Regions from separate parts of the Homo sapiens genome. Here all the other regions are linked to region 1. Evidence: fine-mapped expression QTL. A gene starts in region 1. Each other region holds a variant in brackets. All regions are shown on one strand. Distances are from middle to middle.

Region 1 (8,237 bases):
TCTGGTAAAAATGAGGAAGATTTAGGTGATTAGCAAAGGGAAGGGCATAGAAGATAAGCAACTGGAAAAGAAGTAAAATCTTTTATGAGATGATTATAAAAGTGGGTAGTGAATTTAATTTTAGCTCCCTGAGAAGGCAGTAAGTTTAGTCTGAATAACAAAACATTTTCATTTTAAGATAAACAGCACATGCCTTCATTTTTCTTGCTTAATTTATCTTCAGCAGAGGAAGCAACTGCATTTAACATGAAGTTAACAAAATATTTGTATTAAGCTATTTTATTTATAGTGGATCTGAACAACAGAAAGGAACATTTGCCAGATGAATACTAACATTCTAGGGATAATGTGGTACCAAAAAGTGAGATAATGTTTATTATCAGTAATTGACATTAGTTCATTTTTAAGAGTTTTCTTTTCAAAAATTTTTCACATTCTTTCGAGTAGGATTACTTAATTTTAAACTGGGAGCAGTAGAAAAATGTGCTTTTCATATTCCAATCCAGGACAAATGTCATTTGCCTAACACTGATTAAAGACAAGAAAACACAGAACAGAGGTGCAAACAAACTCACCAGAAGTGAAGTCAGTACTGTCCTTCTCTGTTCTCACCACAACTATTTGTAGCAGTGGGAGGGGTCAGGTGATCTTTTTAATATTTTATTAAACATTGGTTACACCTATGCAACTAACTAATCAAATATTACTTGGAAATATCAGAGACGCTAATTAGAAAATGCAAAACGGAGTTGCACACATTACGTTTTAAAACCACTTTAGCCAATATGCATCCTGGTAACACATAAACTGTTGTCTGCCTTTATTTATTAGAATTATCAAGTTATACAAAAAGAATGAATATATAGCCTTTATAAATTCAATAAAGGCCACTTACTTGAGAATGCATGTCATGTACACAAAGAAGGCCATGTGTCTTTATGGTGTTTAACGTTCTTACTTGACTTGAGTCTTATTCTGCACGTATTGGTTTTATCTGCATGTGGTAGGAGTCCAGGTTTTCCAGTTCCTTACACCCATTAATTTGTTGAATGTTTTGGAAACATGTAACTTTCTTTGGTTTTAGTTTTTGAACGGATCCCATTTTTAGCCCTGCACAAATGATTACATGTTGGTTCCTATCTTAGGTGGTGAGCCCAATGAACTTTTGAAAGGATCAAGGGGGCAATTTACAACGAATCTTAGATATGAAGCATGAATGAAGTGTTGTTTAATTTATCACCCTCAGCAGAGTATAGCCCAAATACACTGGCAGGGGTGTGTAAAGTCTTTTTTTGTCACAGAATCCCGCTGAACCGTACTTATTTCAAATTCCATCACCCCTTACCGTGTACGTGATGGTTTCTTCGGTGTCCTGTGACTTGACCAGCGCCAGAGTCAGCATAGTTAGGAAAAGGGCTTTCAACATTGTGAATCTCAAAGAAAATACAGGACAAACTAATGTTTAGTATCTGCTGCGGGGAAAGTAACAAAACTTTAGCAGTGAGCACAAGCGAGGAAAGGAGGGTGGGAGAGGCTGAGGCTCCACCATACTCAACTTCCAATCTGCTTTCTCATCTCCCCTCCCCCTCCTGAACCTTCTCGGTAGCCAACGAACGAGGCAGCAAAGACGTAAAAACTGCTGTAGAATTGCATTTCACGTTACTCCATCCTGCTACGCTGTTTACATACAAAAGACATTCAGCGTGCATTTTATACTGCACCTACAAAGCAGGCTGCAGAAAGAGGGGGTCGAAAGGAAAAAACAGTAATCCATTTCAAAGGGGACGGTGCATTTCCTGCCCCCCAGTCCCACACCCCGGGGGATGGAGGTGGGGCTGCAAAACTCTGTTCTCTAGAACGTTAAGGCTTTCCCAGTATACTCACCTTGAGCTAGCAGAGTTCCTTGCACAGCACAGCAAAAATACCTGTGAGCCAATATGAATTGCCTTGGCCTCAAGCTTTTTATTTTTTAAACAAAATAACAAAACAAAACTCGGAGAGCAATCTTCCAGTTCTAGTAGAATACTAGACCTTCTCACATGTCTCAGAGCTTCTCACATCCCCCAGCACAAACTCTCAAAGTGGCATTTCCACGCCTTTCTCTGCGCACAGCTTTGTTTAAAAGTCCCAGGTTGTGTGGAGGGGCAGCCCAAAGCGACTGATTCTCTTTTGTCTTATCAGTCTGGGTCCCCGACACGCTACCTTCGGTTTCAGGCTGCCTAGGACCGGAACCAGGGATCGCACCGCAGCCCAAGGTACCAGTTTCGGGCGGGCGGCCTGGCCCGGCAGGGAGATGAGGTCCCCTTTCTTAACAGCAAGCTAACGCGGCGGTCCCCTGGAGCTGCTCAGCGTCCCAGCTTCTAACCAGCTCCTATGGAATCCAGGTGCGGCTTAAATCTCGCACACTGGTCCCCTAAACTTTCAAAACCACGTTTATGGGCAAAGCCCTGCCGGCTGGTTGTCGGCGCGCACACACATGCCCATCCCAACAGATGTCACCCGAGTACTCGCACTTGCTGACAGATCGCATTCCGAGGCTGCACACCTCCACCTCCCTCTCTGCCCGAGACACCCTGCACAGTCCAGGGCAGTTCTCGGGTACTCAACACCCCTCAGCTCACCCCACCTCACTCTCCCGCGCGCGGCCCAGTGAGTACTGGGCTCGCTCGGGGCGACCCCCCGTTGGGGGCTCCTACCTGTGCGGCCGCGCTGCGCTCCGGGCCCGGGCAGCGAGGGGAGTGCGCAGGGGAGGGCAGCCCCGTGGGTCTGATCTGGCGAAGTCCGGCAGCGGCCGCGGCGGCAGGAGGAGGAGGAGAAAGGGAGGGAAAGGGGGAGGGCGAAGGGGGGCGGAGGAGAGAGCTGAGGGAGGCGCGAGCGCTGAGCCCAGCGTTGCGAGCCCGGCGGTAGAGCGCGCAGCGCAGCGAGGTCCGCGCCCCCTGCTCCAGGGGCCCTCTTTGCCGCCCCCGCTTGCCCTCCCTTGCCAGCTCCTCGTTTCCCAGACTCGCGGGGACCCCACGCCAGAGAGGACACGTTGACATGTGATGTCCTGGATGCGCTTCAGCCTTGGGGATGCTCCCACTCTCTAGTGCGTTTTCTTCTTCTCTGAGGAGGGGAACACAGCATCTCCCTCAGAGACCAGAGGGTTCTAGAAACTGCTGTTACTTTTTTTCCCAATAAGTGAATGCTAGGAGAGTAAATTAACCCCCATTCATAGAACTGTTTCCTTTACCTTTTCTTTCGGATTTTTTTTTTTTTTTGAGGAGGTGTCTGCTTCCACAAATGGAGAAAAATGAGAATTCATCCATTCAACAAATATTTGCCACCTACTGTGTGCTTAGTGTTGGGAATAGGCCAAATAGAACTTGCACTAACAAAATTGTGAGGTGGGGTTTGTTTTATGGTCTCTCAAACCTCCCTTTATGATAACAAGTGTTGGCAAGAATGGAGAAAAGGGAATGCTTGTATGCTGTTGGTGGAATGTAAATTAGTACAAACATGATGGAAAATTGTATGGAGGTTTCTCAAAAAACTGAAAGTAGAATTATCATATGATCCAGCAATCTCATTTCTGGGTATTTACTGGGAAGATTTGAAATCAGTGTGTTGAAGAGACGTCTGTACTTTCATGTTTATTGCAGCACTATTCACAATTGCCAAGATATGGAATCAACCTAAGTGTCCATCAAGGGATAAATGGATAAAGAAAATGTGGCATATATGTGTGTGTGTATACAAATATAATATATATTATATATATAAACACATATATATATAAAATATGTACACACATATATTTTAGATATATATGCGTTTTTAAGGCTAAATAGTATTCCATTGTGTGTGTGTGTGTGCGCGCGTGCATGTGTATATGAGCCCATTCTTCTGAAAAGTATCTTTCAAGCCAGGCAAAAATGGCAGTTCACTTGAATAATTTGTATGGTAAATAGAGAAGACTTACAGTTTGTTTTAGATATTTACTCCTAGACATTTAATGTTAGTGTACTATCAAGTAAGCCTAGACTGAGTTTAGCTTCACCACTTGGCTATGTAGCCCTAAGCAAGTTAGACACTCTCTTTGATCTTCAGTTCTACCATTAATAGAAGGAAGATGATGCCACTTACCTTACACATTGCTGCAAGGATCAAAGGAGATCGTGTCTCCACAGCGGGATACTCAAAAATAGTTATTATCTTGTCCTTTAACCATGAATTATTAGGCATACAAAATTTAAAAGAGAATAGTATTCCATTTTATGTGTCTGTGTGTATGTGTGGAATACTATTTAGCCTTAAAAAAGAAATTCTGTCATTTGTGACACCATGGATGGAAGTGGAAAACATTATGCACAGTGAAATAAGCCAAATGTAGAAACACAAATACCACATGTTCTCAAGTATCTGAAAGTAACTTAAAACAATTGAACTCATAGAAGCAGAGAGTAGAATGGTGGTTACCAGAGGCTAGGGTTGCAGGGAATGGAGAGATAACAGTCAAAGAGTGTAAGCCTCAATTAGATAGGATGAATAAGGGTTGGGTGCAGTGGCTCATGCCTGTAATCCCAGCACTTTGGGCAGCCAAGGTGGGCAGATCACCTGAGGTCAGGAGTTCAAGACCAGCCTGGCCAACATGGAGAAACCCCATCTCTACTAAAAATACAAAAATTAGACACGTGCCTGTAATCCCAGCTACTCGGGAGGCTGAGGCAGGATGATCGCTTGAACCCCGGAAGGCAGAGGTTGCAGTGAGCTGAGATCATCCCTCTGAGTGACAGAGTGAGACTCCATCTAAAAAAAAAAGAGAGGAAAAGTTTGATTTTTTTAAAGTTCAATTGCACGGTGTCGTGAATAAAGCTGATAATTGAGTACTGTATATTTCATTATCACTAAGAGAGTAAATTTCAAATGTTCTCATCACAAAAAATGTCAAATATTTGAGGTGATGGATATATTAATTAGCTTGGTTTAATTATTACACATTGTATTAAAAAATCATAACACCTTGTACCCTATTAATATATACAACTATAATTTGTCAATATATAATAAAAAGTCTCCCTTTTTATGGGTTTCTTTTTTCATCTATAGCTTCTCTTTTCTTCACTTATTGACTTAGTGAAATCTCCAATACTGCTCATTCAAAGTTGGGCATTTCACTTTCACCTTTCATAGTGGAATTTCAGGAATCTGGAGAGAAAAATCTTTTTTTCTGTTTTTATCAAATCATACCACACAAATTGCAGTTACCTCTGAAGGCTCCAACTCTAAAGTCATACTAATAGCTTGCTTCCAAGGCAGCTGTCTTCTAAGAAGCAAATGGCCAAATACAATTTCATGAATGAGAAAACTTACAAACTGAAGGGGTTAAAACTTTGACTCTGTCCTTGAGCAGGAGGCAGAGCTCAGGAGGAGAGGAAAAGCTCCTTTCCTTTCCTGCTGACTCAAGGTGGGAGGGTGGTAGCGACTGCAGGAGAGGGAGGTTATCAGGTGGAAGCTGCTCTCTTTATCTCTGGGGTATCCAGTGTGGGTTACCTAGACATTGCCAGTTTGGTAGCAAGCCACACAGTATTGGACAAGATCAGAGGGGAGGTGTACAACCCTCCCTAAACCTTACTTGAGTATACAGAGTTTTGGTAATTGTATCAAATATTTTTACTATCAAAATTCTAGTGTTTTCCCCCAAGTCATTAATGACCTCCAGATTTTTTTTAAATGGATCTTTACTTTTTGTACAGTAAGAAGATCTGTGCACATGGTTTTTCCTGTTTCTCTTAAACTCTTTCTACCTGTTCCCAGCCACTTTTCCAGAAAAATGGGGTGAAAACTCTCAAATTTATATCTCCAGCCTGGAACTGTTCCTATATATCCAGCTGCCAACTTGCTATCTTCATTTGGACATCTAATGGATGTTTCAAACTGAACACAACTGCTGTTATCATCCCCCAACCTACTCCACCCACCTTCACCATCTCAGTTAAAGCAGTTTCATCTTTCTATTTGCTCAGATTCAGGACCATGGAGTCATCCTTGATTTCTCTTTTTCTGAGATATCCTGCATTCTATCCTTCAGGAAATTCTGTTGGCTTCACCTTCATGATATATCCAGAATGGAACCACTTCTCATCACCTCTTTTGCAACCACTCTGGTCTAAGCCACCACCATTTTCCAACTGTATTATTGCAACATCCTCCTAATTGGTCTCCTTGTTTACAACCTTGTTCTCCTGCAGCCTTTTTGCAGTGGGAGTTCATATGAATGAAATCATAGAGTAAATACTCTTTCGGGTCTGACTTCCTTCACTCAGCATGTTGCTTGAGATGCATCCTTGTTATTAGGTGTATGAGAAACACATTCCTTTTTATTGCTGAGTAGTATTCCATTGTATGTATATACCCTGATTTGTTTGTTTACATCTTAATAGATACTTGGATTGTTTATGAATAAATCTGTTACGGACATTCACTTCTAAGTCTTTGCTGGGATATGTTTTCTTTTAGATAAACGCTTAGGAGTGAAATTGCTGTCATATGGTAGGGGTATGTTTAACAGTATAAGAAAGTGTCAAACTGTTTTATAAAGTGAGTGTGTTATTTTATGTTCTTACCAGCAATATGTGAGATTCAATTTGCCTGAAATCCTTGCCAACTTCTGGTATTGTCAGTAATTTACAATGTTAGCCATTCTGGTGGGTGTGTAAGTGGTATTTCACTGTGGTTTTATTTTACATTTCTCTGATGTCCAGTGATGTTGAATTTTGCTTTTCGTATGCTTATTGTCCATCAATATATTTTATTTCAAATTTGTGTTCATTTCTTTATTTTTTGGTCTTATTAGTTGTAAGAGTTTTTAAAAATAGTCTTCCTGCAAGTCCTCTTCAGATTTACATTTTTCGAACATTCTTTCTAGTCTTTGTCTTGTCTTTCCAATTTGTTAATGCTGTCTCTTGAGAGCAAACATTTTAAATTTTGATAATTTTTTTTTTTTTTTTTTGAAATGGAGTCTCCCTCTGTCACCCAGGCTGGAGTGCAGTGGCACTATCTTGGCTCAGTGCAACCTCCGCCTCCTGGGCTCAAGCAATTCTTCTGCCTCAGCCTCCTGAGTAGCTGGGAATACAGGCGCACACCACCACACCTGGCTAATTTTTGTATTTTTAGTGGAGACAGGATTTCACCATGTTGGGCAGGATGGTCTCGATCTCCTGACCTTGTGATCCACCTGCCTCGGCATCCCAAAGTGCTGGGATTACAGGCGGGAGCCACTGCACCCTGCTGGATGATTTATTTAATGGAGTCCAACTTTATGGATTCAAACTGGATGCATGGATTTAGCAGAATGCAAGTGGAAATTGCAGTAAATTCACCTTCCTAAAATTGCTCTGAGCTCAGAGGAATCTGAGATTTTAAAGATTTGGGCTGGGCACGGTGGTTCACACTTGTAATCCCAGCATTTTGGGAGGCTGAGGCAGGTGATTCACTTAAGGCCAGGAGTTCAAAACCAGCCTGGTCAACACAGCAAAACCCCTTCTCTACTAAAAATACAAAAATTAGCTGGGCATGGTGGTGCGCGCCTGTAATTCCAGCTACTCAGGAGGTTGCAGTGAGCCAAGATCACGCCACTGCACTCCAGCCTGGGTGACGGAGCAAGACTGTTTCAAAAAAAAAAAAGGAAGATTTGAAGATGTATGTGGTGACAAACTCATAATTTTAGAAGAGATTCACAGATGTTGATGATCACACACTGAGCACTATGATCTATGTCTCTGTATCCTTTGGAATGTGTGTCTTAATCAAACATGTACTATCAGTGTGGCTGAGTCTTAAGAGTGCTTAATCAAAGTGTAGAGTAACTGTGTTCAACGGGGACCCACAGTGGGCATCCCTGGCATGCTAGAGACCAAGATATGAATCACAGAATTAGCCCACAGTTTCTGGCCATGTATCCAAACCAGGCAACATTTGGGTCCACTTGATTTGTGAAAGTATATTCTCCTAGGAAACTGCTGAAGGAGAAGCCAAGGCTGGAACCAGAATTGATGGAAAAAACCCTCTCCTTCTTACAGAAAGAATTCATTTAAAAACACTAGTATTCTTACTGAATTGATAAAAATGGATCATTCACTACTGATAGCCCTATAATGGACTCTTGCAAGAATAATGTTGATTAAATTATTTATTTTCTTGGACTGCTTTCTTATTGATGCATAAAAATTCAGTATTTTTGAATAGCAGAATTTACATTA
Region 2 (8,237 bases), 78 kb after region 1:
TATTTTGTCTGAGATGTAGAATTATGCACATTTAGGTAATTTATTTCCTTCCAATTTATGTCTTTTTGAACTTCAATTTCTTTGTTAGGAGAAAAAAAGGACTATAAAATAGGAGTGCCAATAATACCTTCTTCACTGGGTTTGTGAGAAAACTAAGTTAAATAATATGTGTAGAGTGCTTCATGCAATAGTGACTATTGGTCGTTGTTATCAAATACTTAAAACACTCCTACTGCCTGGGAGGATGCTAAATTCCTAGCAATGTTTTTATTGTTTCCTTTAATGAAACCTCATGTTTTGAAATATTTTGTGTAACAAATTGCATATATGGTTAATAATTTTTTTCTTTTGTTACTATCAAAGGCATTTTAGACTGTTAGTTGGAGCTTCTGATTAGCAATTGCATCAATATTGAGTTGAATTAAATCCAATGAAAGCAAAGAAACCTGATATTTGGAGAGCCTTCTTATCCTCATCTAAGGAAATGTATTTCTTTCAGGTCACCTGAAGTGGTGAAGTGTCTAAAACATCTTGTTGATCTCCAGCACTGAGTTTACAGACTCTAGACATAGTTGGGCTCCACTTTTCAATGAACAAGCCAAACCTTATTATTATAATCTGAGTGAGTTGACATTTTGTGTGTGATCTAATTCAATTTTTGAATGTTACAATTTTTTCCATCACATCATGGGAAATTGGTGTGGTCCAGAAATAATCCAAATGAATTCACTAAGAATGAAACTGAAGATGAATTTTTAACATGCTACCAGAAGTTATTGATTAACAGGCATACCAATGTTTCAGATACTAACAGATACATAACATTATTATAAATATATAAAAATCAAATTATGGCTTTTATTCATTGTCATTGAAGACCAATTTCAATAATAATTTTTAATACTTTTTATTTTTTGTTTTACCTTTTAGTCATGACATTTTTATTATATTAGAGGAGAAGGGAAAATAATTTTTTTAGTATATAGAAATTGGATTGCTTACAGACAAATTAAACTTAGGAGGGAAAATTATAAAGGATGTTGAAAACTATAAATTTAAACAAACATCTCTTATTTTGACAGGATATGTTTCAGAGAGAACAAATCTTGAGTCTTTCAAATATTACTGGGCCAGACTAAAATAATTTCATTGTGAGAGCATTTTCCTTCTCTGTGTGCAGTCTAAGTGCATATTTTGTGCTCTTAGGAATAACTTTCCAAAGCTGTGCGAAGAATGTAGCAATAAAATCTAATAAGAATTATGGCTCATGACTTGAATGATGTCAGTACCCTTTTAATCCTCCCAAACATGAAAACGTTTTCTCCTCTTAAATAAGATTTCTTAACTCCTTATTTCTAAGGAAATAAGTACATCTGAGCAATTCTATTGGCAAAGTAAGAGTTAAATGAAAATGTTTCTTTCCATTATTATTAATGCTTATACTTATTAAGACCACTACTTTAGAAATGTATTCTAGACAATATTTTTATGAATACATATTATTTTGTCTGATTATTTTAGTGTTCCAGTTATAATCTTTTGCTCTCTCTAAGCCAGTGGTTCTCAAACTTGAGCATGAATCGGAATTACCTGGAAAGCTTGTTGAAACACAGATTGCAGGGCCCATTCTGAGTTTCTGATTCAGGAGGCCTCTAGTGGGGTGCAAGAATTTGCATTTCTAACAGGTTCCTAGGTGACGCTGCTGATGCTAGTCTGGGAATCAAACTTTGACAACAACTGCTTTAAGCCATGTTACAAACAACCTTCTTATTTTAAAATTTAATTTAGTGGGATTCAACCATCACGAGGCATGTAGTCACCTTGGTTTAGAAGAAGTTAAAGTTCAGTAAGTGGGCTATAGCTTGGCTTTTTGGCCATGCTAGATTTATTCCAGGCCAAAGAACTGCTTATAACAAAAGCATAGTTGATGAAATGGTTCGATGCTTGAAGATGTCAGACTGTAGAATCTCTACGGGTAAGTGTGTGATTTCCTCAGTGACATCACATTTGCCTGCAGAGATTTTCCAGTCTGCCACTTTGAAGTTGTACTTAAGATAGAAAAAAGTTGTCGTCATTCTACAGTGATCTTTCTGGTCTTGCTAAATTTTAAAACTATATTTATTCAAGATTAAAATTGATGGGAAGTAGGAGTTATAGCTGGGATTCAGATAGGTGCATAAATGAGAATGGATACTCTCTAATTTTGCCACACATCTCCATAGAGAATGAAGGAAAAGATGAAAAGTGAAGTTTCCCAAGCCACAACCAGTGGATGAGACTAGTATACCTTGGTCATGGAAGAAAGACGAGGCTTCTTATGCCATCATTCATTTTTTTTTCTCAAATTATGCTGTTTGTTTCATATGTGCTTATTTTACCAGTGTGTTAGTCACACCAAAAGCCTTATGGTCAATCCAGGTAAATATCCTTGCATTTCAAGCAATTTTATCTAACGTTAGACTTTGCAGTTGAGTTTCTTAGTCTTTTGTAATTTAGTTATGCCTAAGTAATAACAAGATTAGATGAGTAGAATGAGGAGATGTGCTTTTTACTTTTATTCTCTCCATCTTTCTTCTGCCTAATAATGGTCTTATGATAATACCATCACCTGCTGCTAATCTTTAAAGTGCTGGAATAATGCATGATATGCAATATTTACTTTAGAGCTCAAAAATCTAACTTGTGAATATTGTGATATTATTAACACTACAATGTCGGGTTTTGGGTCAATGTCAACTATAAATTTATTCCAACATTTTCCTAGAACAGGGACTTCATATATTTTGTTCTCTTCTATATCCCAGCACATGGAATAATTCCTGGCCTATAGGAGGTGCTCAGTAAACATTTATTAATGATTGGCTATTACTTAGGATGTTTTTTGCAAATACTTGTTTACCATTAGAAAGGAAATATATATATATATATTCACATATTTTATTGATATTACAGTGACATTTAATTTCAGACAAGATAAAATGAGAGAATATTTAAATATGTAAATCTTGGTAATAAAGAATCCTCCTACAATAAAATGCATTATAATACAATTTTTTGTAATACTTGGTTTAGGAGTAGATTAATAACTTCCTTAAAGTATAACAATGTTATATTATGTTTTTCAGGCATGTAGTTGAATTTCAGATGATGAGTTTTTTAGTCCGGGTTACGTCCAAATTTATGTAATAATGAATCACAAAATTAGGGTTGATTATGTTTACACTACACAACACAGTGTCTTGATTATCTGTTAATCTGCTATACACACATCCTTGGACCTCAAGATGACTTTAAAAGCGTCCTCTCAATTGCATTCTGACTTTCCTAAATAAACCATAAATAGAAACTTAACAGTAAATCTCTCATAAGTGTGCAGAGGATATAACAGGTGGCTCTGATCTGATGTAAGTGTAGCTAAAATAATGTGTTGAAATAATTGCAGCTTAGAAAGATAGAAAACATCTGGGCTTCAAGGGAGAACACTTC[C/T]ATCCTTTTTGCTGCTTTTAAAAATAGAGAACTACATCATTCTGGGTTGCATAGAAAGAAGGGGCTGTGTTAGAAACTCTATGATCCTCAGTCTGTTCATCTAAAGCTCCAAAGGATGAGACTACTATACCTTGGTTGTGGAAGAAACACTAGACTTCTTAGGCCATCATTCATTTTCTTTTCTCAAATTATTATTTTTGTTTATTTGTGCTTGCAGGGCCTGATTAACAGTGTCACTTGTTCTCTTGAAGGAAAACTGAAGTTGTGAATGATGGAATTATAGTTGCCATTTCTCCAATTGTTGATATCTTGTTTGTTCCTTTGCTCCATGGGAAGGCATGGATGGAACAGAGCTTTGAGACAGAATCCTCATTTTAGTTGCCTCTATGAGTAGGCTGTTTAGAGGCTGCCAGCCTATAATATGGGGCTCTTGTTAGTTTAAGTACTTAGGTAGAAAAAGACCCTTCTATAAATGCAAATTTTTAATATCTAAGCATTATCTGCCACCAACATTAGTACAGATGAATTTATAAGATTATTTCTAGCAGACAGTAAAGACCTGAAAAAAAAATTGAACAGTACAGTTACATCTTAAAAGATCAGAGGTCAAGATCTACCCAGTGATTCTCAACGCTGGCTGTATATCAGAAACATTTTGGATTTATGGAGAAGACAGATTTCCAAGCCCCAACCAAGACCTACCTCCTGAACCTGAACTTACAAGATGTGGACTGGAGAAGTCTCTTTTTTAAGAAAAAAATTAGTAAACTTTATTTTTTAGGGCAGTTTTAGATTCACGCAAAATTGAGTGGAAAGTATAGAGAGTTCCTATATACCCTATCCCCATCCATGTACAATCTCCCCTGCTAACGACATCCCCCACCATAGTGATAACGTTTGTTATGATAGATGAACCTACATTGACACATCATTACCACCCTCAAATCCAGTTTACATTAGAGTTCATTCCTGGTGTTCTCTGTGTTTTGACAAATGTATAATGATATGTATCTACCACTGCAGTATCATGCAGAATAGCTTCAGTGCCCTAAAAATCCTCTGCCTATTCATCTCTTCCTCCCCTCTAACTCATGCCACCCACTGAGGTTTTTACTGTTTCCATAGTTTTTGCCTTCTCCTGAATATCATATTGTTGGAATCATACAGCATTTAGCCTTTCCAGATTGACTTCTTAACTTGGTAATATACATTTACATTTCCTCCATGTCTTTTCATGGCTTGCTGGCTCATTTCTTTTTAGTGCTGAATAATATTCCTTTGTCTGGATGTATCACAGTTTATTTATCCATTCACCTACTGAAAGACATTTTGGTTTCTTCCAAGTGTTGGCAATTATGAATTAAGCTGCTGTAAACATCCATGTGCAGGTTTTTGTGAGGACGTAAGTTTTCAGCTCCTTTGGGTAAATACCTAGGAGCGTGATTGCTGGATTGTAAGGTAAAAGTATGTTTAGTTTTTAAAGAAACTGATGAACGGTCTTCCAAAGTGGCTGTACCATTTTACATTCCCTTCAGCAATGACTGAGAGTTCCTGTTGTTCCACATCCTCATCAGCATTTGGTGCTGTCAGTGTTCTGGATTTTAGCCACTCTCTTAGGTGTTTAGTGGTACCTCATTTTAATTTTCAGTTCCCTAATGACATACAATATCAAAAATCTTTCATATGCTACTTATTATATCTTCTTTGGTGATATGTCTATTCAGGTATATTGCCCATTTTTAGATTGGGTTCATTTTATTATTGTTCAGTTTTAAGTGTTCTTTGTGTATTTTAGATAACAATTCTTTATCAGATTTTTTTTTGCAAATATTTTCTCCCAGTCTGTGGCTTATCTACTCACTATCTCTTAACATAATCTTTTGCAGAGCAGAAGTTTTACATTTTAATGAAGCCCACCTTATCAATTATTTCTTTCATAGGTCGTGCCTTTGGGGTTATATCTAAAAAGTCAATGTCATGCCGAAGGTCATCTAAGTTTTCTCTTGTGTTATCTTCCAGGAGTTTTATAGTTTTGCATTTTGTATTTAGGCCTATGAACCACTATGAGTAACTTTTGTGAAGGATATAAGATTTGTGTCGAGATTATTATTATTATTTTTTGCATGTGGATGTCCAGTTGCTCCAGCACTATTTCTTGAAAAGACTCTTTGCTCCATTGTATTGCCTTTGCTCCTTTGTCAAAGATCAGCTAACCATGCTTGTGTGGGTCTATATCTAGGCCTTCTATTATGTTCCATTAATCTATTCACCTATTCTTTCATCAGTACTACACTGGCTTGACTGCCGTAGTGATACAGTAAGTCTTGAAGTCAGGTTGTGTCAGTCCTCCAATTTTATTCTCCTTGAATAATGAGTTGGTATTCTGGATCTTTTACCTCTACACATAAACATTAGAATTGGTTTGTCAATATACACAAAATCACTTTCTGGGATTTTGATTGGGACTTCTTTGAATCTATAGTTCAAATTAAGAAGAACTGACATCTTGACAATATAGTTTTCTTACTCAGGAACATGGGCTATCTCTCTATTTATTTAGTTCTTCCTCCATATCTTTCATCAGGGTTTTGTAGTTTTTCATATAGATCTTGTACATCTTTTGTTAGATTTATAGTTAAGTATTTCATTTTTGGGGTGTTAATATAAATGGCAATGTGTTGTTAATTTCAAATTTCATTGTTCATTGCTGGTATATAGGAAAGTGATTGACTTTTATATATTAACCTTATATCTTGCAACCGTGCTATAATTGCTTATTTCCCGGAGTTTTTTTGTTGATTATTTTGGGCTTTCTATATATATGGTCATGTCATTTGCAAACAAAGACAGTTTTATTTCTTCTTTCCCAATCTGTATATTTTCTATTTTCTTTTCTTGTTCTATTGCATTAGCTGTAACTGCCAGTATGGTGTGAAAAATCAGTGGAGAGAAGAGACATTCTTGTCTTATTCTTGATCTTAGTGGGAAAGCTTTGAGTTTCTCACCATTAAGTATGATGTTTGCTGTAGTTTTTTTGGTAGATATTCTTTATAAGTTGAGGAAGTTCCTTTCTATTCCTAGTTTGCTGAGATTCTTTTTTTTTTTTTTACCATAAATAGGCATTGCTTTTGTCAAATACTTTTTCTGCATCCATTGATATGATAATGTGATTTTTCTTCTTTAGTTTTCTGATACGCTAGATTACATTAATTAATTTTCAAATGTTGAACCATCCTCGCATACCTGGGATAAATCACATTTAGTCATGGTGTATAATTCTTTTTATACATTGTTGAATTTGACTTGCTAATATTTTGTAGAGGATTTCTGCATCCTTTTTCATGAGAGGCATTGGTCTGAAGTCTTTTTTTGTAAAGCCTTTGTCTGACTTTGGTATTAGGGTAATGCTGGCCTCATGGAATGAGTGAGGAAGTATTCCCTCTGTTTTTATTTTCTAAAAGAGACTGTAGAAAACTAATATAATTTGTTCTTTAAATGTTTGGTAGAATTCATGGGCAAGCTTATCTGGGGCTTGTGCTTTCTGTGTTGGAAGGTTATTAATTATTGATCTAATTTAACTAATAGATATAGGCCATTCACATTGTCCATTTCTGTTTGTGTGACTTTTGGCAAGCTGTGTCTAGGAATTGGTCCATTTAATCCAGATTATCAAATCTGTGGGCATAGAGTTGTCCGTAATATTCCTTTATTATCCTTTTAATGCCCGTGGTATATGTATGATGTCCTCTACTTCATTTCTGATATTAGTGCTTATCATTGAGATATTAGTCTTATCTTTTTTTCTTATTTAACCTGGCTAGAGATTTATCACTTTTATTATCTTTTCAGAGAACCAGCATTTGGTTTTGTTGGATGTTTCTATTGATTTCCTGTTTTCAATTTCATTAATTTCTGCTTTAATTTTTATTTTTTTCTGCTTTCCTTGGATTTAATTTTTTTTCCTAGTTCCCTAAAGTGGAAGCTTAGGTTATTTATTTCAGATCTTTCTTCTTTCATAATATATGCATTCAATGCTATAAGCTTCCCTCTAAATGTTGCTTTCATTGCATTCCACAAATTTTGATAAACTGTATATTTTCAATTTCTCTTGAGATTTATTCTTCGACCCATATGTTATTTAAAAGTTTGTTAGTCTCTAAGTTTTTTGAGCTTTTCCAGTTGTCATTCTGTTATTGATATTTACTTTAATTCCATTACGTTCTAACAGCATACATTGTATGATTTCTATCCTTTTAAATATTTTAAGATGTGTTTTATGGCCCAGAAAGTATTCTATCCTGGCAAATGCTCCATGTGAGGTTGAGATGGATGTGTAATAAGTTGTTGGATGAAATAATCTATGGATGTCAATTATATCCCAATGATTGATGGTGTTGTTGAGTTCAACTATGTCTTTACTGATTTTCTGCCTAGTGGATCTGTCCATTTCTGATAGTGGTAAAGTCTCCAATTATAATAGTGGATTTATCTGTTCCTCCTTGCCTTTCTATCAGTTTTTGCTTCACATAGTTTGGTGCTCTGTTGGGTGCATACACGTTAAAAATTGTTATGTTGTTTTAGAGGACTGACCCCTCCATCATTATGGAATAGCTCTCTTTATCCCTCCTAACTTTCCTTGTTCTGAAGTTGGCTCTCTCTGAAATTAATATAGCTACTCCTGCTTTTTTAAAAACAGATTTTCTGCTTTCTTTCGATTAATATTACATGGTATTTTTTTCTTCATACCCTTA
Region 3 (8,237 bases), 45 kb before region 1:
TAACAACTGAACTACATTAACTGGATTTTAGAACAGAATTCCCATGGGTAAGCGTTTGTTTTCATAAATGGGTACATAATCAGATAAAACAACAGCAGTCACAGGAATTGGACTTTATTCCATACTATCTGGGAAGAGTTTTACCTTCACAGTTGAGCCTGTCACTGCTTAGCTCATATCCTTGATTGCACTGACAGATGAATGAACCAAGAATGTTGTAGCACTGCTGAGCACATTGATTGCTGGCATCACATTCATTTATATCTGAAAAAAAGTTTTATATATATATATATGTATATGTATATATATACACACACATATATATATAGACTTTAAACATATCCTTACTCTTTTGTACCTACGTCATCTGCTGACAAGTGAGTAATTCCCTAGCTGAATTATTTGCCCTGCAGAAGCTCACTGGAGAACATCCATTTAGGTTTCATATTTGTTGGAACAACTACAAACGTCTGTCATATACTTCTTTTGGAAATACCGAAATATTTTTTCTAGGAATGACAGTTAGTTTGATGTTTGATGAATCTTTCCAAAGGAATTTAATGCTTCTAATAAATATACACTCCGGTATCGATTTTCTTTTGTTGTTCAGATACAAAATGCCAATTCTATAAATAATTGATATAAGACACTTATACTGATATGGTCTCTCAGCATGCTGTACTGAAGATTTATCTGTGCTATTTATTACTTTTTAAATGGGTTCTGTTAAATTCCATTACAATTATAACATAAGCCTTTGAGACCCATACGGAGTTTTGCAATGCTCTAAAGCACTGAAAATATTGTGAAAAGGCATTTTTCCTACACTAGATTTTTTCCATGTCATGCCAATCTTTTAATTGTGTGCCGTGACATTGCATTCTGAAAGGGGAGAAGAGGCATGTAAAAATCAGATGCACTTTCAGTGGAAAGTTTATATACTTGAACTTGTAGTAACCCCTTTGGCACTTTCAGCATTATATCACACACTGCTGATTGACTGGTGTATGTATATCAATTGATTTGTAGTTTTAAATTTGTTGATCTATCCACAGAGGAGAACTAAAACCAAAGTTAAAAAGTTTTCTGTTCACATCTTGATGTGTTTTAAGACACAGATTGGTTATTATCTTTTAAGCTTTATGATTGCTGAAGGGAAGTCGATGGAAACTATTTACTCAAGAACATAGAAAACTGGAAATACTGCAACATGGCATGGGGTTTCCTTTTGTGAAGACAGAAATCAGCAAGTTCTCAAAAGGCTTACCTACGCAGGTATAGTTGTTTGCTGCCAATTGAAACCCAGGACTGCACTGGCAATAAAATGAGCCTGGTGTATTCACGCATCTTTGGTGGCAATATGGAGGGATGGTACATTCATCTATGTCTAGGTTATCAGGCACACACACAAAGAGAACCAAATTATTGAATTAGCATTCTCTGAAAAGCATTATCTAGAAAACCTATGTAGAGAAAATCTCTTTTTAAAAGTAATAATTTCCTATTTTGTTAAAATTAGGGTATATGTATTTTAAATATACTTTGTATTCTGAGTTAAGAAGTTAAGAACAAAGACTCAATGTTCATGCCATTCAGTGGTAAATAAACTTGGTGGGTGGATTGAGATTTAAAGAAAACAAAATAATTGAGACTATTGCATATATATATAAGATGTCAGTTTGGGGAGCTAAAAGCTTATATATAATTACAGAAGTAAAAAAGAACTACTGAAGTGCATGGTGCAGCACAAAACAAAGAAGAAAGAGTTGTGGGCTGTGCTCAACTGGTGACCTTGGCTAAGTCACTTACGCCTTCAGTATCTTGGTTTTTCTTCTATAAGATGTGGATAGCAAGGCTTGCCATGTGTATCTTAGGACGTTTTTGTGTATCAAATAAAAGAACACTGTGGAAGAATTGGATGCTAAATAAGTTACCTCTTGAGAGTGCTCTTTTGACACTTTGATGAAGTGTTCCAGCCTGTGTCCTTCTCATATAAATATTTTCAACTATAAAATGCTCAACTAAGAACTTGCTAAGTAGGACTAACATCTTAGAAGCATAATAAAATTTCATTAATTCATGATTCTACACTTTGTGACAACTTCAACATGGCATGTGTAATTTAAAACAACCATTATGCATATACAATGTAATGCTATATAGTGACACTGCCTTGTGGTAAAACAAAACAAAACAAAACAAACCTTTATGCTGGGCTCTTTTGGTACTTTAATAACTAAAATTAAGTAGTGTGCTCAAGTGGCCTCAGGATAACCTGAGTCTGAATCTTTGTTCTGGCAATTACTAGCTTGGTCTTAACTTCTCGAGCTTGCATTTCCTCTTCTGTGAGTAGAATTATTGGGAGGGTTACAAGACATAATGTAGGCAAAGTTACTGGCACAAAGCAAGTAAACATAAATGGGAGCTAATAAGCTGCAAGATATATTTGATTTAACTTGAATACTGAAATAAATAGTAAGAAGATATTCACATGGCTTTTCCCCTTACTTTGGTTCAGGTGTCCATTCAAATGTCACCTCCTCAGGGTGGCCACCTTTCCCACCAATATCAAATAGGTTCTTCTGCCCTATCTATTCCCTTACCTTGCTTTAGACTTCTTTGTAGTCCTTAACAGTACTCGACATTGTGTTATGTGTTTATTTGCTTCTTGTGTGTTCCCTCACTATAGTGCATGACATTCTCCCCTTGAGGTGGAGGTAGAGGGTTTTTTGTCTGTTCATTGTTAGATCTGGAATAGGGCCTGGCATAGTAGTAGGTGTTCAATAAACATTATTCGAATAAATCGAAACTTCACACTAATTAAGAGCAATTTTAGCATAGTGCTTCCTAGTCCTCAGTACTATCATCAGGTGCTAGTATTGATAGCTAATTTGTATGAATGGTATTATACTTTCTAATAGCTCCACGAGGGCTATGAATTTGTAAAATTTGTTTACTATTATCCCAGTTCCTAGAACAATGCTTGTTACACAGTAAGCCCTCAATAACTATTTGGTGAATATGTGACGCATGTCTTCTTAACTAATAAACATTCATTGAACCATTCTTATTTGCTGGTACTGTGTTTGGCACCCCAAGTTTATAATGATAATCAGTATACATGTGTTCTGCCTTGTCTGGTATGAAAGACAGGCATGAAACAAATTATTCCATGGAATGAGAAGATCAACAATAGAAAGGAGTGTATGGGACACAGGGAGCACCATGCTACTTGAAGTGTGGCCTGCTGACTGCTGCTGGTTCATGGGCTATTTGGACCAGTCTGCAATGAATAAATACAGAAACTGAGAGTA[C/T]ATGTTTAGAAATAGCAATTTGACATTAGTGCAACATTATTTTTATTGTGCTTTACAGAAGTATTGGTCTGCCGTAGATTGGAAATTTACAAAAAAGTATCCTTCATCATAATTTGAGAAGTACTGGCACAGGGGAGGAGCAACTAATTATATTTGGGTAAATCATAGCAGGCTTCCCAGAGGAAGTGATCCTAAGCTAGGATTTGACAGTGAAATAAGAATTTGCCAGGAGGGAATGTTTTTGTTGTGTAAAGAGCTTGTATAGAGGCACCAAAGTGTAAGTAACACTGTGTGACGTGTGTGGGGAACTGGTGGAATAAAGCTGGGGTGTAATATTTTGTGGTGGGGGAGAGGTGTTTATGCAACAGAACTGGACAATGATCAGATTGAGCAAGACCTTTCATGCTCTGTCGAGGAATGTAGACTTGATTCTCTCAGTGAGGGAAGCAGGAGGGGAAGACACATGATTAGATCTGAGTTTAGGAATATTTCCTCCTACCACATTAAAAGGGCTGTGACCGTATGTTCCATTATCTTTGATTCACCCCACACTAAGTTGGATTAGTTCTTTTTTCTGTACTTTTTATGCCCTCAAATATTTATTTTCCTGTCTAATACAATGGCCAAACTTTGTTATCTCTGGAGTTTTCTACACACTCTTCTTTTAAATCACAGCTTCATTTATAGCAAACCCTGGGCCTTCCTCAGAGGCTGGGCACTAACCCCAGCATCTAGGCACAGCCCTATGGCAGACAGAACTGGGCTGGGGCCCACATGGAACTCAGTGTTGACATGTGAACATCAACAGCTCACATTCTCAGGCGAAAACTGACGCTGGTTGTCTGTCCCCACATCCTCACCCTCTGTTCCTAAGAGGAAATAAGGCTTTTTCACTGATCTGTGGTAAGAAGGGGTATGTAAATAAATGGACAGTCAGAGTTTCATGCCTAGTGCTGGGCCTCATGATTGAGCCCAGAGTACTGTATTTTACTTCACTATCTGCCAGTTGGCTTCCTCATACTTTGATCTTCCATTCACTCAAAACACACGCATAGAGCCTCCATCACATGGTGGGCACACTTCAGGGACTGGGGAGACCACAGTGACACAAGATGACCTGGTCTTGCTGTCAGGGAGCTCACGCTCTTAGGCCCTCCAGCAGAGGCACGTGCTGAACTTGGCTTTGTACTCATGGTACCCTACAAAGGCTTGCAGTATAAAGAGCCTTTAATACCCATCTGTTGACTCAGAATACAACGATAGCAAACAGCTTTACTGCACAGGGACAGGCACTATTCTAAGCATTCCCTACATGAGCTCTGGAGGTAGGGCCTAGTATCATCTCCACAGTACAAGTGAACATAGTGAGACACAGGATTTAAGTAACTTGCTCAAGGTCTCAAAGCGAGCTGGGGTTGGTGCTTGGAATGCAACTCCACCATTTGCTCTATGTGCTGTGCTATGCTATGCTCTGCAGCAGTGAATGGTGAATGAAGCCCACAGTACCAGTGTGTTAGCGCGATGGCCCCCAAAACAGCAAATTTAAATTTTTTTGTGGTTGTTTTTATTGTCCCATTCATACCCCAAATTTCTGCTCTTGCTTCGTCTAACATTTAACCAACACTTTGTTATCCAGAATAGCTCAACCTTTAAGGTTGTTTCTTGTTATTGTGGAAAATGGATTGGTAGTCTATAAAAAAATAAGGAATTATTGGCTACCACTCTCCAAAGAAACATGAATGCTTTGATTGGAATGCTTGAGGTTGAAACAGTTAAGGTACTCAAGACAGGACCGTGCTCACTGCACTGTGGTACTTACCTACGCACTGCTCCCCTCGCTTCTGATATCCAGGAGGGCACTGACATGCAAAGGATCCCCGTAAATTGATGCACACTTGGTCTGCTCTACAGTTGTGCGTCCCTGCAGTGCACTCGTCTATGTCTGTCAGAGACATGCAACACAGAAAGAATTGTCAGTTGTGAAGATGTTGATATTTCCTCCATTTTGCCACTTCTTAAGCTAAATTTTTACTTTATTCTTAAAAGTTTATAATGTTCTTGCATTGGAAATGTTTAAAATTATAAATTATTTCAAGTGTTCAGAAAATAATTTTGCAAATACCAGTGAGTACTGCTCAGATTTAACAAATGCTAACATTTTGTCATGTTGGTCTTGGCTCATTTTGTTTTGTTAAGAAACATTTCAGATACAGCTAAAGCCTCACACCATCCTCATCCCTTGACCCATCAGCTACCACTGTCTCGGTAGGAATGAATCCTTCCCTGAGATGTTTTTGTACTTTTGTTAGACAGGGATGCATCCATTAGAACATATGGTATTGTTTTGTATGTTAAAAATTTTAATAGATTGTATGATACTTGCTTTTCCATCCAATATATTGTATTTGAGATAATTTCCATTGACAAATTTCTAAAAATCTAACCAATAACTGGGTGTAATCAACCTTTAATATTATACGTTCCCTGTAGCTGTTTGTTTTTGCAAACAGCAGGGCAACATGTATGTATAAATCTTTCATTGCAAATTTCAGAATGCAAAGGATTCAATTTGATCATATTCCTCTAGCCTGTGTAGTTTAAAAATCCATATTTTCTCAAAGCAGTGTACTTCTTGGAATAATTTACTAAATGTGCCTTAATGAGTATGCAGGTTACAGTTCTAGAAAAGTAAAAAATGCTCAGTGATAGCATAATGAACTAGTTATAAGAAATTTCTTTCAGATCAAAAGGTGATATAAATTTGTGTGTGTACATTCATATTTACAGTAATTTATAAGTAAAATCTAATTTTGCCTTATCTGTATCACTTTTATATTCATTCGGCTCTCCTATATCATGAAGTTAAGTAGTACACAAAAAAGGATCATATAATTTCATCATTCTTCAACAACCACTCTAAGCTTCATTAACAATATCATAAAACTTGTGATTCCTAGATGACAATTTTTGTATAAAAACCAAAATACTACCCTGGGTCTACCACAGTGATGATTTAAGACCCCTGAGGCAGATTTCAGAGGTCTTAGATCATCACTGTGGCAGACTCATGGTAGTATGTTGGAAGAAAAAGTAGGGAAAGAATCAATAATAAAAAATTCACCCAATTTCTGTCTTCCCTCTAAGAATCTCTGAGAGTAGACCCTGAGGTTGGTTTGCCTTTCACTTTTCTGTATTTTCAAGGAGGACTGCGCATTTACACTATGCAGTATAATAATATATGAAGTTGAGATTGTAAAAGGGTTGTCCTCAGAAATCAGCTTCACTTAGCTGGGTGTGGAAATGATAAGAGAGATTCTTTCGATAAGAAAGAGGGAGGGGAGATGAAAAATACTTGAGTGATGTATGGCTATTTATTGGATAATAATCTATAAAGCATCCACTTACGTAATTCTTTGAACTTGGTTTTAAAGTTTTGGCTAAGGTTTTTGTTATTTTGTTTTGTTTTGAAATTTATTATAATTACTACTAGTATTATTTTCAAGTCAGTGATTACAAACTGTCCTTTTTAGGTACTATGCGATGGTGCAACAATCCTGCTTTGAAATTATCTGCTGTTTTTTGTGTCTTTTATTATTTTCTCAGATGCACTTGATGAAAACCTTTTTACTGGGGTTTCTTCAGAGCTTTATGACTCGTTAATGCAGAAATGACAGCAGAGTATCTATTGTTTTATGTCAAGAACATTTGCCAGCATTTGCAGTGATAACAGTCCTGAGAGATACGGCAATGTTAGATTCAGATGTGGCAAGTTTCCTCTGGCAGCAGATCAAGGCCCTGGGCTGGCTGCTGCATTTTCTAAGGGAGGCCTCAGCAGTGACTGAGGCTTTTCTTTTTGACATCTATCTGCAAACTGCCTCCACCCCGCTGCATTCCTACAACTGATGCCCTATGACTTCCTTCCTACTTTCTTGTTGCTCATTTCTTAGTGTCTGATAAATAGGCTAACATTTCCAGTGGAATTAATGTATCATTAAGTAGATTTTAAACACAAAAACCTGTGCTACTCCTTCTTAAGAATGAGGTCTGTTTACCTTCTGAGTGGGTTATTTAATAAAAATATTAGGTGAGTTAAATTAATAAAAACAAACAACAACAAAAAACAAATACCACTGTGCTCACTGCCACTACTTTCCTTCCCTTTCTCCACCAACACCCAAACAAAGCTGCAACAAGACTTGCCTCACCTAGGACTGACTGGTGATTACACATTTTACTTACTGGGACTCATAAAATTGTCAAAAAAGTGACCTCTGTGACCAGGAGGCAGCTACTAACTACATTTCCATTTATGGCTTCTCTGGCTGTGGTTTAGAATATTTATCCTCTCCTTTGCTGTTGGTGGTTTATCTAATGCTAAAGGCTATAAACAGACTGAATTTCTTTGACCTATTTTCAATTACGTTAATGTCAATTTATTAGTTTATTTAAATAACACAATATTATTTTGAAAATTATACTTTGAGATCCTGGAATTACTTATTTACACATCTATGCAAAGTCATATAAAATTATTATACATTGTTAAATTCCGTTATGTTTGGCTTTTCTACTTCTATGCATTTCCATTTGTCATAAATACCAGAAAGCTCACTATGATACAAAATTTACTAAAATGGACAATGATGTCAGAAACTCAAAGCAGAATACCCATCCCTGTGCAGATGCTCTGGAAAAGGTGGCTCTCCCAGGAGTGTTGATGACAGTCCACTGCCCTCTACTTGCTCCTGACTTCCCATAGTGCAAACACAGCCTTTTGTAGGTATCTCCATGGTGTGTAAGAAAAATCTGTTTCCTACATTTGTATGGGAGAATATCTGCATTAGCAAAAGCAATGCTTTATTTATAAGGGAAACTACTCAGGTCAGCCATGATTTTCCTGATAATCTAGGACAAATTACTATG
Region 4 (8,237 bases), 36 kb before region 1:
TTTCAGGAAAAGTAGGATCAGTGTTTTACCTAATGGAGCTAAAAATGTATGAAGCAGAGTAACAAGGTATATCTGAGAAACACAGCAAAATCAGTAAGATGTTAGTAAAAGAAAAATGATGTTGAGCAAGTGAGTCCAGGAGTGCAGAGGCTATGAGGTATAAAGCAGATTCGCCAGAAGAGGTGGGTTCTCCACTGCATTTTGAAGAAGACGAGATACATGGGTTGCCAGGAAAAGGAAGCTGTTTCTAGGCAGAAAGCAGCTCACATTAGAAAATGCTGATAAGACAAAACTGGTTTCCATGAGAAGAATGGCAGACAGATGGCGTCAGCACAGCTGCCGGGGCTCTGTGTGAGGAGCCTGGTGCAGTGCCTGGTTGAAGAGGATCATGAAATGCTAGATCTGTCGTGAACAAAATTCAAGGCCTTAAAGGCAGGATTAGAGAGTCTGGATTGAACAACATAAGGAGTCTCTCTGAACTATGTAGACAGAGCCTAATGTTAACATTACCAAAGAACAAAATAATAGATTGTGCTTCCTAAAATACCATAACACATTTCGTCATTCTAATACATTAACAATAGCTAATGGCAATATTTGGTGATTCCCTCATTTTTCAAAAATGTGCCCACGTGCTCCCTCCTAGTGATTTATACTATTGTAGGTCCCTCTCTTGCTGACTTTGGCACCGTTAGTTGCTTTAAATAACACAGGCTAATCTTTGCTCAGCTCTTCTAGCCTCTTTATCACACCGACCCCCACGTCTAGGGAACCGCACATTTGATTTTCTCTCAAAGTTAATGGAGACAACTTTGTCCACATCTCTGTGGTGTCCATTAAGTCCCTGCTTAGGCCCTCATTCTCTATGTTTTTGGCTCCTTCCCTTCAGTCTGACTCATATTTCCCAAACCCCTGACTCATGCTGCTTTCTCTCTCTTATGCAACATTTTAATCTCTGCAATGTTCTTTCCATAATTTGATAACTTACCACAACATGGAGTCCCTTTAGCATGTTTTCATGGGCAAAAATTATCTGCACCTTGAATGGTGTTGAGTACCATTTAGACTTTTATAATTTGTGCTGCTTTTGGTTTAAGAAATAATTTAGAACTACTTTTGAATAAGCCACTGTAGACTAGTGATGAGAATGCACTAGTAATAGGACAAAGAAGACTGAAATTATTTTGAATCTGTCACTCCCTGTGTGATCTAGGGTCATGGTATCAATTTTTTCTCTTTGTTTCTCCATCTCTGAAATAGAGAGTCTATCCTCAACAATAACACACAGATTTTTAAAAGTATTCAGATTCTTCACAATATACTTTTTTTGTTTCCAGACTGTAAACCCCTGGAGTAAAATAACCGTATCTTTACTAGTTCTGTGTGGGGCACTGTGCATGCTTTGCAAATATTATTTAATGGTGCTATCCTGTGAACTCTTGTGGTTAAAGAAAAGATAGTGGTTAAATTCAAGTTGGTGATACTTCTTGATCTGTGTGGATTTAAAACCTTATTATACCTAGCTTCCTCAATCAAACTGATTTAATCTCATAAATGGAGTAAAGTAGAAAAATGGTCAAGGTAAAGGATTCATGTTTGTTAGAAGGAAGAGCTTCTTTACCATTGGCCTCCTTCCTCCCAACATTCTTAATGATTTAGATACCCACCTGCTCAAAATGATTGCTCCCAATCCTTTCTAGAGACAGGGTGATAAACTAGTTCCTACCAAAGTACTCTTTTTACTTACTCTCTGAAACTTTTTAAATAAAAGGGACTCACTGAGTGAAGGTCTTAGAGGTATTTGGAGTATTTTGTTTTTCAATATAATCCTGGAAGGTAAGAATTACTTCAGCAAGACCTGAGGGCACTGAAGTTTACTACTGTTTTACTCATCCAGTATTTGCTATTGATAATGATAACCTGAGTAATTAATATAATAAATTATGTAGATTGAAATCTGATTTAGAAAAAAGTATATAATATTTTATACAGATTCATATACAAACTTGGTAACATTCTAAAATTAATTGGTATAAAAATAGGTAAATTCTTAGCAATATAAAAAGATCTATTATTTGATTGGGAAGGCAGAATTACAAAGCTTCTTATTTAATCCTAATAGCCCTGTGGAAGAGGTAGTTACTTCATCCACAGTTTACAGATGAAGAAAAAAAAGGATGTCACTGAAATGTAGACTCAGTTGAGGGAACTTGCCCAGGGTCACACAGAGCAGAGATTCAAACACCAGATTTCCATTTTGTTTCTGCAATTTAGGTCCTGAGGAAGACTTATTTCCTATGAGTTCTGGAGAGTAGTTTTAAGTGAATTTATAGGTGTTTTTAATTTTTTTTAGCCTTAAAGATAGGGTTGTTAATGTCACAGCACCTTGATTCCTCCCTTGCGTCTTTCTTCTACTTAGAATAACATTCATAGCTCTCCAAGTTTTCTGTTTCCCTCCCCAGTTTTTAGCCAATTATCAACATTTTTTTGTCAAAGACTTTCTAGTTCCCTTGCTGTTTCTTTCATAGTACTGGAATCAGATTTATCTGGGCCAAATGCCCAGTTCTAGTTAGCTTTTCACCCTTCTGAAATTATCAGCTAGAATTCACTCAAGCTAAGCAGTTCTAGTGGAGAAAATAAATACTAATATTAAGTAACAAGAGAGAACTGTCTTAATCGATGGCCAGCAGTAGATTTATAGTTCTAGATTCTTATCAGTTCTGGCAAAACAGATTGTTAATAATTTGGTGTGCTTTAAATGATAAACAAAAATATCACCAAAATCAACAAATTATCAGCCTCCCTGATAGTTCATTTCTTTGTTTTAGAGAGTGGCGAAATCAAGTGTCCTAGAAGCCCTTGGCATTGCATTGTGTTCTATCAGAACTTTACAATATGCTGTTCTCATAGGAAAAAAATCATGCTACTTCGAATTGCTTTTCTAGCAATGATGACGGATTTGCATTGCAAATGGACCCCCCTCACGTAGCTTCCTCTGTGGACAACAGTGTTCATTTGCCAGATGATTGGATGAGGTTAGGCATACAGTTCATGAACATGGGGAAGAAAACCAACTAATGCATGTGAACGACCAATCTGTGACTCATCTGTACTACACATAAACCAGATGAACCAATGGGTCATAGGCTGAAACAGAGGAAGAGCAAAGAAACAAAGGCTTTACTTCTCATTCTTCAGCTGTTTTTGCCCACTGGCAACATGAAGCTTATGCTTTCAGAATCTCAAGGAAACAACATTGTCTACTGTTAAATGATTGTTAATTGTTAGGAGTATTTTCTGGCATCTTTGTGAGTATGTCATACCCAGCTAAACTCTTTTTTTTTCCTTCTTAAACTTTTTTTTTTTTTTTTTTTTTGAGATGGAGTCTTGCACTGTTGCCTGGGCTAGCATTTAGTGGTGCAATCTTGGCTCACTGAAACCTCCACCTCCCAGATTCCAGCGATTCTCCTGACTCAGCCTCCTGAGTAGCTGGGATTACAGGCGCCCACCACCATGCCTGGCTAATTTTTTGTATTTTTAGTAGAGGCAGGGTTTCACTATGTTGGCCAGGCTGGTCTCAAACGCCTGACCTTGTGATTCACCCACCTTGGCCTCCCAAAGTGCTGGGATTACAGGCCTTCTTAAACTTAATTATTAATTTAGAAAATGTTTGGGAAAAGAAAACCCTGATATTTGGGATATTAACAACCATTCATCAGTCTGCTACCTTGTGGAGGTAAACCTGTATTTTGAAACAAACAGCAACATCAGTCTTTGCTCCAGAGTGGCTCAGTACTAGAAATTAAAGACCCTTTGTGTGAAGGTTTAAGCCCATGCCACACAGGCTGGAGACCTGCTTCAAAGTGGATGGCCTTGGGAGGAATTAAGATCCCGCCCTATTATGGGATGCCTCTGCACTGACATTTCAATTGTGTTTTCCTGGTTCCCGGCCACTTGATCTCTCCTCTCCTCTATCTCCCACTTCCCCGGCTCCGGCTCAAACACTGGTGAGTGATGAACTGAATGGAGACTGACTACATTCAACTGAGTCTACCAAGCCCTGCCTGAGCACTGTGATTTGATTCTTGGCCTCCCTCCCTGAGGCCTTGCAGCCAGATTAGTCAAGTCTCTGGAGCCCAAAGCACACACATTCCTGGCTTATTCCTTCAGGCAAATCATCACTTGAGGTCGCATAAGCCCCTGACTATGGCAGTGCCAATTATAACAAGCATGGCTTGCTGACCTCCTAATTGTATGAAACCAATTACATTATGCTTGTTGTTCATTCAACAATAAGCAGCTTTTGTGCCCACTAAATTGAGGCATACTACTAAATTTGGTGAGTGTAACTTGGCAATACTTCTCCAACTCATTAACTGCCTAAAGCTTTTTCAATAAAGAATACCTTTGTGCCTCTTGCCTTCAGAGAATGTTACTTTCTTGTGTGTATTTTCCTGCCCATTTCATTATATCTTACTTATGATCTTTCTGCGCAATGTTTCTCCATATGCCTCAGGGCCCTTATTTGCACTAAATTCTTTTTTCTGTTCTCTTTTTGATTCAAAATTCCAGCACAATAAAAAGAATAAAGATGTGGATAAATCTAAATAAGTACTGACTGCCTAAAACAATAATAGTAAAGTATTTTGGGATTTATAAAATATTTAGAATTAAAATACATGAGAATAATAGCATATATAGTTTGGCAGGAAGAGGAATAGAGTTTAAATATTTTAAGGTCCTTGAATCACGCAGGAAGAGTTAAAAGTACTAATTGATCTTAAATTTTGATAAGTCATGGATGCATGTTCAAATGATCTGTAGGAAAAACAATAAAGGAATGGTAAAAAAAAAAAATAAAACTACAAAGCTAATAGAGGGGAAAATAGAATAATACAAAATACTCCATCAATTTAGGAAGAAGG[T/C]AAGAAAACAAAAGGAAACTAAAATGTGCAGGACAAATGAAAAGCAAATAGAATGGTAGGTAGTTTTAAACCTAAACATATCAGTGGTTATAGTAAATGTAAATGGACTAAATGCACTCACTAAAAACCAAAAATTGTCAAATTGATTAAAAAACAAAACCCAAATATACTGTTTCAAGAGACATAATTTAAATACAAGGACACAGAGATTAAAATAAAAAAGATGGAAAATATTTATGCAAACACTAACCAAAACAAAGTTGGCTATGCAATATTAGTATTAGAAGAGGTTGACTTTATGGAAAAAAAAGATTATTAGAGAATTAAAAAAATACTACATAATGATAAAAGTTTCAGTTTACCAGGAATATGTAGAAATTCTAAATTTAAATGCACTTAATCATATAGGCTCAGTATAGACAAATAAAAAAATGAATGAAACTAAAAGGAAAAATTGACAAGCACAGTTACAGTAAGATTTTAACACACTTCTCCTGGTAATTGAAAGAATAAATACATGTTTTCAGAAATGAATAGAAAATGTGATTAAAACCTTTGAACTAATTGACATGTATAGAGCACAGTACAGAATACATAGCCTTTTTAAATACTGAGGGAACATTAAAAGAAAATGGCTATATGCTGGCATTAAAGTAAGTCTAAATAAATTTCAAAAATTTGCAATATACAGATTATGTTCTCCAACTACAATGCAAATAAGATAGAAACAACAACAACAACAAAACTAGAAAAAGCCCTTCTTTTGGAAAATTAGACATACTTCACAACAACCCATGGTTTAAAGATAGCTAAATTGAAATTTGAGAAATCTCAAACTGAATGAAAATGAAAATATTACAGATCAAAATTTATGGAAAAAAATGCCAGCCCATAAGAAGGCCCATAGCCCTACCCTACCTCCTCATATCATCCTTATCTTTTTCTTTGTACTCAATTTACAAGAGAAGAAAACATAGATGAGATCTATATCTGAGATCATCTTCAGGGTTATGAAAGGGAGCTTAGGGAAGGAGGAAAAGATCTTTTTATTTTAACTTTTATTTTAGGTTTGGGGGTACATGTGCAGGTTTGTTATATAGGTAAATTTGTGTCACTGGGGGTTGTTGTACAGATTATTTTGTCAGTCAGGTGCTAACCCTAGTACTCAATAGTTATTTTTTCTGCTCTTCTCCCTGGGAAGAGGAAAAGATCTTGACCATGTATTTCCAAAAAGCAGAAATAGAATAAATGGCTAGAAATGCAAGAAAGGCAGATTTTCGCTCAGTGTAAGAGAAAATGTGGTTATTATTTGTTTTGATGTATTAGGAGATAATGAGTTTCCTATCACTGGAAATACACAAACGATTCAATGTGGATCCCAGCAGGAGGTGGGGGATTTGACTAGTCATCTGTGTTTAAAAACAGTGTTAACATGCTACATGCAAATATGACAGAGTTTTAATAATTTTTGAATCTGAACGGTGGGTGTTCCTTGTTAATTGTACTGTACAGTCAACTTTTCTCTAAGCTTGACAATGTTGATGATTAAAAATTGAAAAACAGATGCTGCATCCACTCTAATATAGAAAATTGTGAGGATTCAACAACATTGAATATCTATACTTTCTCTCATTTGACACATGGTGCACATACGTATAGCTTTGTATAGCTGTGAAGTTAACTTTTATACCTTTACAATCTATCTCCCAACATCTGAAATACTTGCCTCATGATGAAGTGTAGCAAGAAAAGGTTTCATTGTAAGTGGTTATTTATTCCTTCTCTCTTCCTTGAGCAGGAAAACAGTTACGAAATTTTAGACTCATTATTTCTTGTCCTGTATTAAGGATTTTTCAGGAAGGAAGACTCAGTCTTCATCATGTTAAGGCATAAGATTATTCCGTGATCAAAATGTTAAACTTGTGCCCAAATCCTTCAGATAACATTAAATCAAGTGAGATCTGACTTCCTGGTTTTGTTCCAAATTGATACCATAGTTACCATTTCCTCCAAGTTATCCATAAATTATCATGCATTCTTGGACTTAATTTGTTGATAAATTATGATGACATAGGCTGTGGGATTTTCCTCCCTCTATGTTAAAACACTTTCAGTGTTGTGAAGCAACAGCATTCAAATAACTCCTGAATATTAGCTCAAGGAGTGCCTAAAGGCCATAAGGGACAAAAGAAAATCTGTTCAAAAAAACTTCTGACCCTGTGAGTGTTGCAATTCTAAAGGCTTCTCAAAGCTAGCATATAAAATAGTCTTTGGACTTTAAAATGAGTCTGGGGCATTTTACTTTACATTTCCATTGGGGACAGAAATAAGTTTCTCAGAAAATACATTCTCTGAGATCTGTTTCATTTTTATGAATCTGACATTAAAGCCTACTTTGATAAATTCCAAAATGCTGTTTTTAAAAGTATTTGTTTTCTAGCTCTAATCTCTTCTCCCCTCTCTAACTTGGATCTTGGGAAACCTGAGTAACATGCTTTTGCTTTCTTGGGGCCATGGTCATGGATCTCCATTTCTTCTTGCGTCCTTTTTCAATTTTCAGTGGTGACTTCTCTGTCCCTCTAATCTGTAGGATCAAAGGAGAGTCTGAAAATGGACTCATCTTTCTGGATAGGATTAAATGGCTCTGTTAGAAGAGTGGGATGAATAGAAAGTTCTCTTCAATGTTTAAATACACTACTGTGTTCCTATAAAGTTACATACTTGTCAAGAATTTAGAGTAGCTTAATGTCTGTTTGGCAGTGCAAATTCTGAAAAAGAAAATCTGGTGGAGAAACATGCCCTATACATGGTTTGTGTGTCTGCAGAGTACAAAGGCAGGTAGACCCAAGCCAGTTATGCAGTTGATGTGTTAAAGGTTGATGCCAAACTAAGTCAATCTTAAAGAGAATTTCTTGGCATGAATAAACGGATGAAAAAAACCAAACTCTACGTTCTTAGATCTGTTATATATACTTAAAATGGTTACTGTATGGAGCACATCCACGGAGTCTATCATATTCCAAGTTTTCATTTTGAAAGAAAATGGAAAAATTGAGCAATTCAGATTGTTAATTTTAAAATTAGCCTAGGATTATTTTTTCCCCTAGAAATGTAATAATTTGTTTATAGAAACTTTTAAGTGAAAACCTTTGGCTTCAGGCACATATGTGGTTAATGTGGATGACTGTGAGGCTGCCAGATAGGTGTAAGGGGGTACCCTGTCAGTGACCTTCAATTACGAATCTCTTTTCATGAGTTTCAGAATTAGAGGAATCATACTATTCTCTAACAGCTAGTATTTTTAAGTTCTAA

Alleles and levels. Positions count from the first base shown, and alleles are read on the strand shown. Sizes are in standard deviations (SD) of each study's normalised expression. Not every link is listed here.
For the expression in subcutaneous fat of the gene that starts at base 2,768 in region 1, allele C in region 3 goes with a lower level than allele T (small effect, 0.18 SD a copy in GTEx).
For the expression in cerebral cortex of the gene that starts at base 2,768 in region 1, T is the low allele of the variant in region 4 and C is the other (small effect, 0.28 SD a copy in GTEx).

What was found. PIP is the estimated chance that this variant, and not a neighbour inherited with it, causes the effect.
Region 2: its variant is the best candidate, but not a certain one, in a credible set for the expression of EFEMP1 in lung (TOPMed, PIP 0.52).
Region 3: its variant is the best candidate, but not a certain one, in a credible set for the expression of EFEMP1 in subcutaneous fat (GTEx, PIP 0.50).
Region 4: its variant is the best candidate, but not a certain one, in a credible set for the expression of EFEMP1 in cerebral cortex (GTEx, PIP 0.79).

The regions. Positions count from the first base shown.
Region 1 is chr2:55,921,015-55,929,251 of GRCh38, forward strand. It overlaps EFEMP1 (EGF containing fibulin extracellular matrix protein 1), which reads right to left and starts at 2,768. Exons shown (of 12, transcript NM_001039348.3): 1 at 2,697-2,768; 2 at 1,885-1,925; 3 at 1,346-1,433. The coding sequence starts at 1,426. RefSeq lists an enhancer at 2,328-2,827.
Region 2 is chr2:55,998,763-56,006,999 of GRCh38, forward strand. The region is part of intron 2 of MIR217HG (MIR217 host gene); the gene reads right to left. It overlaps MIR216B (microRNA 216b), which reads right to left and starts at 2,033; the gene lies at 1,952-2,033. The region is part of intron 3 of LOC105374690 (a long non-coding RNA gene); the gene reads left to right. The variant C/T (reference allele first, on the strand shown) is at 3,487.
Region 3 is chr2:55,876,479-55,884,715 of GRCh38, forward strand. EFEMP1 (EGF containing fibulin extracellular matrix protein 1) reads right to left here. Exons shown (of 12, transcript NM_001039348.3): 6 at 5,134-5,256; 7 at 1,268-1,387; 8 at 145-264. It overlaps LOC112268416 (a long non-coding RNA gene), which reads left to right. Exons shown (of 4, transcript XR_002959388.2): 4 at 1,139-1,207. Among named protein-coding and RNA genes, the nearest start is that of EFEMP1, 43 kb to the right of the region's middle. The variant C/T (reference allele first, on the strand shown) is at 3,315.
Region 4 is chr2:55,884,980-55,893,216 of GRCh38, forward strand. All of the region lies in intron 5 of EFEMP1 (EGF containing fibulin extracellular matrix protein 1), which reads right to left. Among named protein-coding and RNA genes, the nearest start is that of EFEMP1, 35 kb to the right of the region's middle. The variant T/C (reference allele first, on the strand shown) is at 4,926.